2 linked regions of the Homo sapiens genome follow. The protein of the gene in region 1 purifies or fractionates together with the protein of each later gene. This does not show direct contact. Each region holds a gene or a part of one and is shown on either strand. Other genes may lie near its edges.

Region 1 (3,828 bases):
GGAAATAGAGAAGATGATCCTGGAGTATCTTATACTATCAGAAAGCAATATAGTCCTTAAAAAAAAGAAAAGAAAAAAGCCAAAATGATGGGGGTATACCAAAAGGACACAGAAGCCAAATTAAAAAAAAGGCTCCCAATGGTCAACGCTAAAACAATTTGAGCAACATGAAAATAAAGTAGTATTGGAATATAACACAAAGGATAAAATAGGTATCTATGAGTCCATACTGATGTAAATGACTGAATAAGTAAATAAATGAATAGATAAATCTCTCTTACATAAAAGAATTACAAATAATTCACGTAATTACTTGGCTTCAAGGAGGTAGAGTGTAACTCTCCACTCCTTAAGTATAGGCTATGCATATATGATTTTCTTCCAAATAGTATGGAAAAGGGAGGGAAACAGTAACTTTACAGTGGAGAAACCTGGCAAACACTACCTCAGCCACGTGATAAAGGTTAACATCAGTAGTGATAAGTCATGTTGACAGTATGTATTCTTGGTATGTGGTGAAAATGATGCTTTACTTCTGTGGTCCTCCTCCCCAAAACCCAGAACTCCAATCTAATCATGAGAAAAACATTGAGCAAATCCCAGTTGAGGGAACCTTCTAGAAAATATCTGACCAGTACTCTTCTAAACTGTAAAGTCATCAGAAACAAGGACAGTTTGAGAAACTGTCATAGCCATGAGGGGCCTAAAAATCCATGAGTACTAAATGTTTTACAGTGTCCCAGATTGGATCCTGGAATAGTTAAAGGACATTAGGTAAAAAGAACAAACAGAACAAAACGAAATCTGAATAAAGTATGACCTTTAGTTAATAATAATGTATCAATATGGGCTCACTAGCTGTAACAAATGTACCATATTAACATGATGTTAATCACAGAGAAAACTGGGCATGGGGTATATGGGATTCTCCGTACTATCTTTGTGATTTTTCTGTAAATTTCAGACTGTTCTAAAATAAAAAGTTTATTTAAAAAAAAAAAACAAAAACAAAAGACTGAAGCCATTACTTAGGTTGACTAAATTGACCAATATATAGACAACATACAGATATATAGATCTATAGATGCATACACACACACAATTGTTTATATGAATGTATATTATTCAAAGATGAATACAACCCCATAAAAGCTTAATTTTTTTTTTTTTTTTTGAGACAGAGTCTCACTGTGTCACTAGGCTGGAGTGCAGTGGCGCAATCTTGGCTCACTGCAACCTCTGACTCCCTGGTTCAAGTAATTCTCCTGCCTCAGCCTCCTGAGTAGCTAGGATTAGAGGCACGTGCCACTACACCCAGCTAATTTTTGTATTTCTAGTAGAGACGGGGTTTCTCCATGTTGGCCAGGATGGTCTCGATTTCCTGAGCTCGTGATCTGCCCGCCTTGGCCTCCCAAAGTGCTGAGATTACAGTGTGAGCCACCGCGCCCGGCCCTAAATGCTTAAATTTTTTATGAGACATAACTGGGCCATCAGTAACTGCTAAAGACTATCTTCCCTGTATGCTCAATTGAAAAAGCTGGACCTTGCCCAGCAGCTCATGAAGCAGATTTTGAGGTAGCCTGAATCCTAACAAGGAACAAACTATTGTAGCAGTGAGTTCCTGAATCAGGACTGGAACCATCCCTTCAACTGTAACCCTCTAGAGCAACAGAAATATAATGCAAGTCACACATGCAATTTTAAATTTTCTTGTAGCAGTATTTTTTAAAGTTTTCAAAAATAAAAAACTTTTAAGAGAAACAAGTGAAATTAGTTTTAATAATGTTTTTAATTTCAATAATACGTAATTGCATATATCTAAAATATTATCATTTCACAATGTAGCAACAGCCACATTTCAGGTGCTCAATAGCTACACGTAGATATTACAGCTCTAAAGCCAAATATATTTTAAGCAAACCACAATATTCATGAACAAAAGCCAACTTTTCTGAATTATCTCACTGCAACCACCTTGCAAAGGCAAGAGAGAATCACAGAAGTATGTTTATGCCTTCATCTACACGTGGCTAAGTCTAGATGGTCTAGACAATCCTCCAGGGCTTGGCATAACCAATCCACTAGACTCAGGCATTTCCTTCCAGAAAGGACACCTGCCTTGTCCGACACCACTTTCACTTCTCTCCTCCGACTGCCCCCCTTGGGATCCTGAGTTCAAAGCCCAGTTCCAAATTCATATCCAAAAGGCCCTAATCACTTACCTCCTTTCAAATGTGTTCATCAAGAGAAATTTACCTAATTCTAGTCTAGGAACAGAAAGGAAGCAAGAATTGAAGTGTAAGATTTAAGAGTTCAATTAACATGACAAAGTCTGAAGAGCGGGGTCCTAGCTAATCTTACCAACTGTTGTCTTCAGCAGCAGCAGTAATATCATTAATGGCTAGTATATCACGTGTTTTCTCTGTGTAAGAAGGGTGCTAGTGTGTTACATGTTTTATTTCACTGATTTTTACATTATAAGGTTGAAATTATTACTCTCTCACCCCCATTCTACCGATGGAGGAGACAGGCCTAGAAAGGCCAAGCAATTGTCCATGACTGCACATCTAGTAAGTAGCAGAACTAGGGTTCTAAACAGATCTGATGTCATGTCTGAATCTGAATCATTTTGCTGTAATACTTTCTTGGTACAATTCTGAGGACAGCCATAAAGTGACAGGATTCACAACAGATCATTCCCTCTCTGTGAATGGTAAAGTAAGCAACTAATTGCAAAAAGACTACTTTAAAATTCTTCAGGAAGCCTATTTCGTGTAACAGAATCTTTGCACCAGAGGAAAACATTCCCCACTTAAGAATTCACTCCCATCACTAGAGGAAAAGGAACTTCACAATAAAGTACTAACTGTATAGTTTCTGCTCATCCCTTTTCCTTACTTTCCCACAGAACCATAATAATTAAAAAAACAATGTTCAAATATAGTGCCATAGGGTATTAAGAAAGAACTCACCCATCTCAGTTCAATTACTAAAATTAGTTAAGATTCAAACACTTTAAGAGCAAAATCTCTTTATTGTTTAAAAAATATCACAGAGTAATCAGATTTCTTTCTTAAAATAAAATTTTTAAATGTTCACTCTTCTGTTCTCTTTGGAAGCAATACTTTAATACATTGTAACATGCACAGCAGAGTAAAGTTCATTTCAATAGATCTACCCACTCTACTTGAATTTAAGTAAGTTACTATGTTGGGGGAATTAACTGCTTTGGCTGGAAAGTTTGCTCCAATTTTTATCCTTCTTAACTCAAGTAAATTATAGTTCACCTCCTCTGGGTCACTTTTAGCTCAACACTGCACTCGCCAATGATGGCCAGAGAGAGAGATTATAATTACTTGTCATCAAACTATTTTTGCCATGGTTATATATATTAATGTCTGTTCATCTACAGACATACATCTGAAATTCATAACTACATGGATATATTTTTCATCTTTTTCTATACATCAATTGGAAATAGATTTAAAAAGGGGCAAGCACAAGTCATTATTAAGAGGGCAACTACTGCGTTTTTAAGAATTATGATCAGGCCAGGTGCGGTGGCTCACGCCTGTAATCCCAGCACTTTGGGAGGCCCAAGTGGGTGGATTGCGTGAGCCCAGGAGTTTGAGACAAGCCTGGGCAACATGGCAAAACCCCATCTCTACAAAAAAAAAAAATCAGCCGGGCACAGTGGCTTGAGTAGTCCCAGCTACTCGGGAGGCTGAGGTGGGAGTAGACTTGAGCCGTGAGGGAGAGGTTGCAATGAGCTGAGATTGCGCCATTACACTCCAACGTGGGCGATACAGCAAGACCCCATCTCATAAA
Region 2 (3,828 bases), on another chromosome or scaffold:
AATAACTACAGTGCCTGTGGTGAGCACTCATCAAACGTGTTGAATGAATGAATAGTGTGTATGTAAGTAATGACATTAACCAAGTCTAGGAATATGGATACAGGTTGAGTATCCCTTATCCAAAATGCTTGCGACCAGGAGTGTTTTTGATTTTGGAATATTTGCATTATTACTGGTTGAGCATCCCAAATTTCAAAATCCGAGCACCAGCTTAAAAAATTTTGATTTTGGAGCATTTCAGGTTTCAGATATTAAGACTTGGGATGCTCAACCTGTAGTATATTTAGAGCCAATAAGAAAAATGGTTTGTCATTTCAGATAAAGTCATGGTTTAAGCCTTGGGTAAACTCTGATAAAAGTAAAATTACGTTCTTGTAAACTCTGAACACAGGCCGTGTACTCCATTAACAAATCCTTTTTGTTATAGGTATAGGTATACCTATATAGGTATAGGTATATAGGCATATAGGTATACCTATATAGGTATAGGTATATAGGCATATAGGTATACCTATATAGGTATAGGTATATAGGTATATAGGTATATAGGTATATCAATAGGTATATTGATATAGGTAAAAGGTATATCAAAATACCTTTTAATAAGTTAGCCAAGGCTCAAAGTTGGAGAAAATCTCAGACTGGGCTGAGAAGGCGAATGTAGGATTATCTTATTTGCTGCTGCTGGCCTCTTTCAGTTAGCTAAGGCCTAACTGTGCAGCATACTAAACACCTGAGGCTCACATGGCAGCTCAGGCTTTCGTTCTTCCAAGTTGTCAGGCTTCAAGAGTGTGAACAGCTGTTCCCAGAAACAGGGTTTCCTCCCTCTTGGGCGTGAGTGCCAGGGTGGTGGTGTCTTTATTGCCTGGAGGTGGAGGAAGAGCTCTGCAAATGCACAGTGGGAGAGTTAATCCTGAAACCCCCTCCGTGCTTCCTGTGTTATTTCAGTTTTAAGTGTTAAACTGTTTTTTTGTTTATATTAAATATATTTAATATTATAAATACATTAAATAAAATACATTTTTATTTAATGTAAAACCTGTGGGCCTCTGAAGTAGGTAATATTGGTAATGTGTATTTTTGGCTGGACATTAGGTAATAACATTTTACCAAAAATTATGTCTGTAGGTGTATGGTAAATACACCTGATAGCAATAACTTAAGCGTGCCCTGAGAATGACCCTGTATTGCAGACACACCTGGATATGTGTTTCAAGCTAGGGAATCAAAATGGCCCACCTGGAGATTCATTCCTTGTCTGTGAGGAACATCTGAGCCCCCAGCCCATCCAGTGAAACATAGGCCATGCAGTGGATCAAGGCCCCGAGTTTTGGGTTGAATGAAGGTTGCCAGGTGGAGGTTGTTAGGGAAATGTTAAGTGAAAATGCTGTATAAACCACATTTTTGCTATATAAACCACTTTTTGCATGCAGTTATGGTTCTCCTGCCCAGCGCATTGCCACTGAGTATACAGTTCTCCTGTCCAGCCCACTGTCACTGGACTCTCCTATGTGTGTTGCCCCCATTAAAACCCTGTGTCTCATTTCCTGGCTCCGGGTCTCTTCTTAGGCCTCTCAAACATGGGTATCTTCCCCACTGGAGGCAATAAGGGTTCGGCACAACAGTATGTACACACACATAAGTATGCAAATGTATCACTGAAGTACAATCTGTTCAGTAATAGCAGTTTTAACAGCATTATACCTACCTCAGCAAGCAAGCATTTAATAGAAGTTTTTCTTGTGAGTGAATGAATATGCTGTAAGTTGATATTCAGGTGATTTTAGTATTACATAGTTCTCTCGTAGGACTTTGGAGTATAGGTTATTCTGTATTACTTAAAGCCTGATGCAAATGTTTTTAACAATCAACCAAGTGGATTTTAAGGCTGTCAATTTTATAAAAATTAAATCAAGAAATTACAACTAGTATACTCTCTTGAATATTTGGCCATCTCAGTTTCACGAAGAAGTATATTAAGGGATTTTCATTTTCTGTAACACTGTTACAGATGAGTGATAAATAACACAAAATACTGTAACAGACCCGTAACTGTGATTTTTGATGTTGTATATTTGCTTAGCTGGAATTATCAGTTATCTACTATATGGGAAAGTCTGTTTTCCCAAGGGACATAGAATTTTAAGCAACTTTTCGGTGAATCTGACAGGATAAATTGTTTGTAAAATATACTCTTACATAACTATAGACAGATCTGTATGAAGGTTTTGTATATGAACCAATTGAATATGCCATGGATAATTTTGTTTTTAGAAAGACTGATCCAGGCCGGGCGTGGTGGCTCACGCCTGTAATCCCAGCACTTTGGGAGGCCAAGGCGGGTGGATCACCTGAGGTCGGGAGTTCTAGACCAGCCTGACCAACACGGAGAAACCTCATCTCTACTAGAAATACAAAATTAGCCGGGCATGGCAGCGCATGCCTGTAATCCCAGCTACTCGGGAGGCTGAAGCAGAACTGCTTGAACCTGGGAGGCAGAGGTTGTGGTGAGCCGAGATCACGCCATTGCACTCCAGCCTGGGCAACAAGAGCGAAACTCTGTCTCAGAAAAAAAAAAAAAAAAAAAAAAGAAAGACTGATCTTTCTCACTAGGCCACTCACACTTAAAAAAAAAAACAGACAGACAGACTGATCCTTCTCACTAGACCACTCAGACTTAAAAAAAAAAAAAAAAAAGACTTACCTTAATCTATGCTTTCAGCCAGACAGTACACAGGCAACAGCATCAGTATATTGAGGCCATTGCAAGTTCTTCCTGAACATTTCCCGCGATTTCATCTGTGGACAGATGCTTATTGTGTTTTGGGAAATCTCCCAAATACATGTCAATTAGCTGTCGATGGAATAGTCTTACAAGATCTGACCCCTAGTTCTACACATATAGTCATTTGGTTAATCAGTTTTACTAGAGTTGATTAGTTTATTTTGCTTTGGGGTAGTGAATGATGATGGAGGAAAAATAAAATCCTAAAAAACAATGACAATATTTGATAAAACTTTTTATTTTCAGTGGCTTTGAAGCGTATGTTGAATTTCAATGTGCCTCATATTAAAAACAGCACAGGAGAACCAGTATGGAAGGTAAGAGTTTATCTTAATGGGAACTGATTTCTGTTTTTCTCAGCCCTTATTGGTGGTAATTGGAGGGAATTTATTGTAATATGGAAGAAGTAACACATATTAGTTATCATGAATGTTTTATCCTTATTTAACATGATCTCTTAATATGAATTGTTTTGACAGACATTCTATGGAGTGAGACAAGTGATAAAATAGTAATTTTCATCTAGGGAGTCCAGTTGATCTCTTTGGTAGGATGTCACTGATAGGTCTTTTTCCTGGTTGATATTTTGTTCCTTAGCTTTTCAAGTCCAGACTTTGGATTTTATAAGCTTGCTCGGAGTTAGTCACATTCAGAGGGCCTGGATTATTTTAACAAACTCATGAGAAAATGATCTGTAAACTGTAATACCACTTTAATAATTTATGAGATATAAAACTTAATTGAACCAGAAAGCAATCTACAATCTTTTCCTTTGAGAAATACTGGAGAGCCTTTAAAAATTCCAATTCTTTAGGCTTCTTCATTTTAAACTTCATGCAGACTCTCTTTCTTCAGATGTTATAATACAGTTGATTGGGTTTAAACTTACTGGTTAACAGTCTCTTTATATTTCTCTCTTGCTAAAAATTAAGAACAAATCAACATGTTTAGAATTTAGGGTGTTTTGAAAACTCTCTTGAGTCTTTATAAGTCCTTTGGGTTAACTCTAAAAGTAGTTAAAGTTGTCTGTATTGATTTCATAG

The links.
Region 2: the proteins of VTI1A (region 1) and SCFD1 purify together in Homo sapiens (affinity purification with mass spectrometry; one large-scale study listed by BioGRID and IntAct). This does not show direct contact.

Annotation. Positions count from the first base shown.
Region 1 is NC_000010.11:112,449,913-112,453,740, reverse strand, and holds part of VTI1A (vesicle transport through interaction with t-SNAREs homolog 1A), read right to left. Parts: exon of another isoform or gene 3,015-3,828; intron 1-3,014. UniProt on the Homo sapiens protein: V-SNARE that mediates vesicle transport pathways through interactions with t-SNAREs on the target membrane. These interactions are proposed to mediate aspects of the specificity of vesicle trafficking and to promote fusion of the lipid bilayers.
Region 2 is NC_000014.9:30,625,178-30,629,005, forward strand, and holds part of SCFD1 (sec1 family domain-containing protein 1), read left to right. Parts: intron 1-3,031; coding exon 3,032-3,102; intron 3,103-3,828. UniProt on the Homo sapiens protein: Plays a role in SNARE-pin assembly and Golgi-to-ER retrograde transport via its interaction with COG4. Involved in vesicular transport between the endoplasmic reticulum and the Golgi.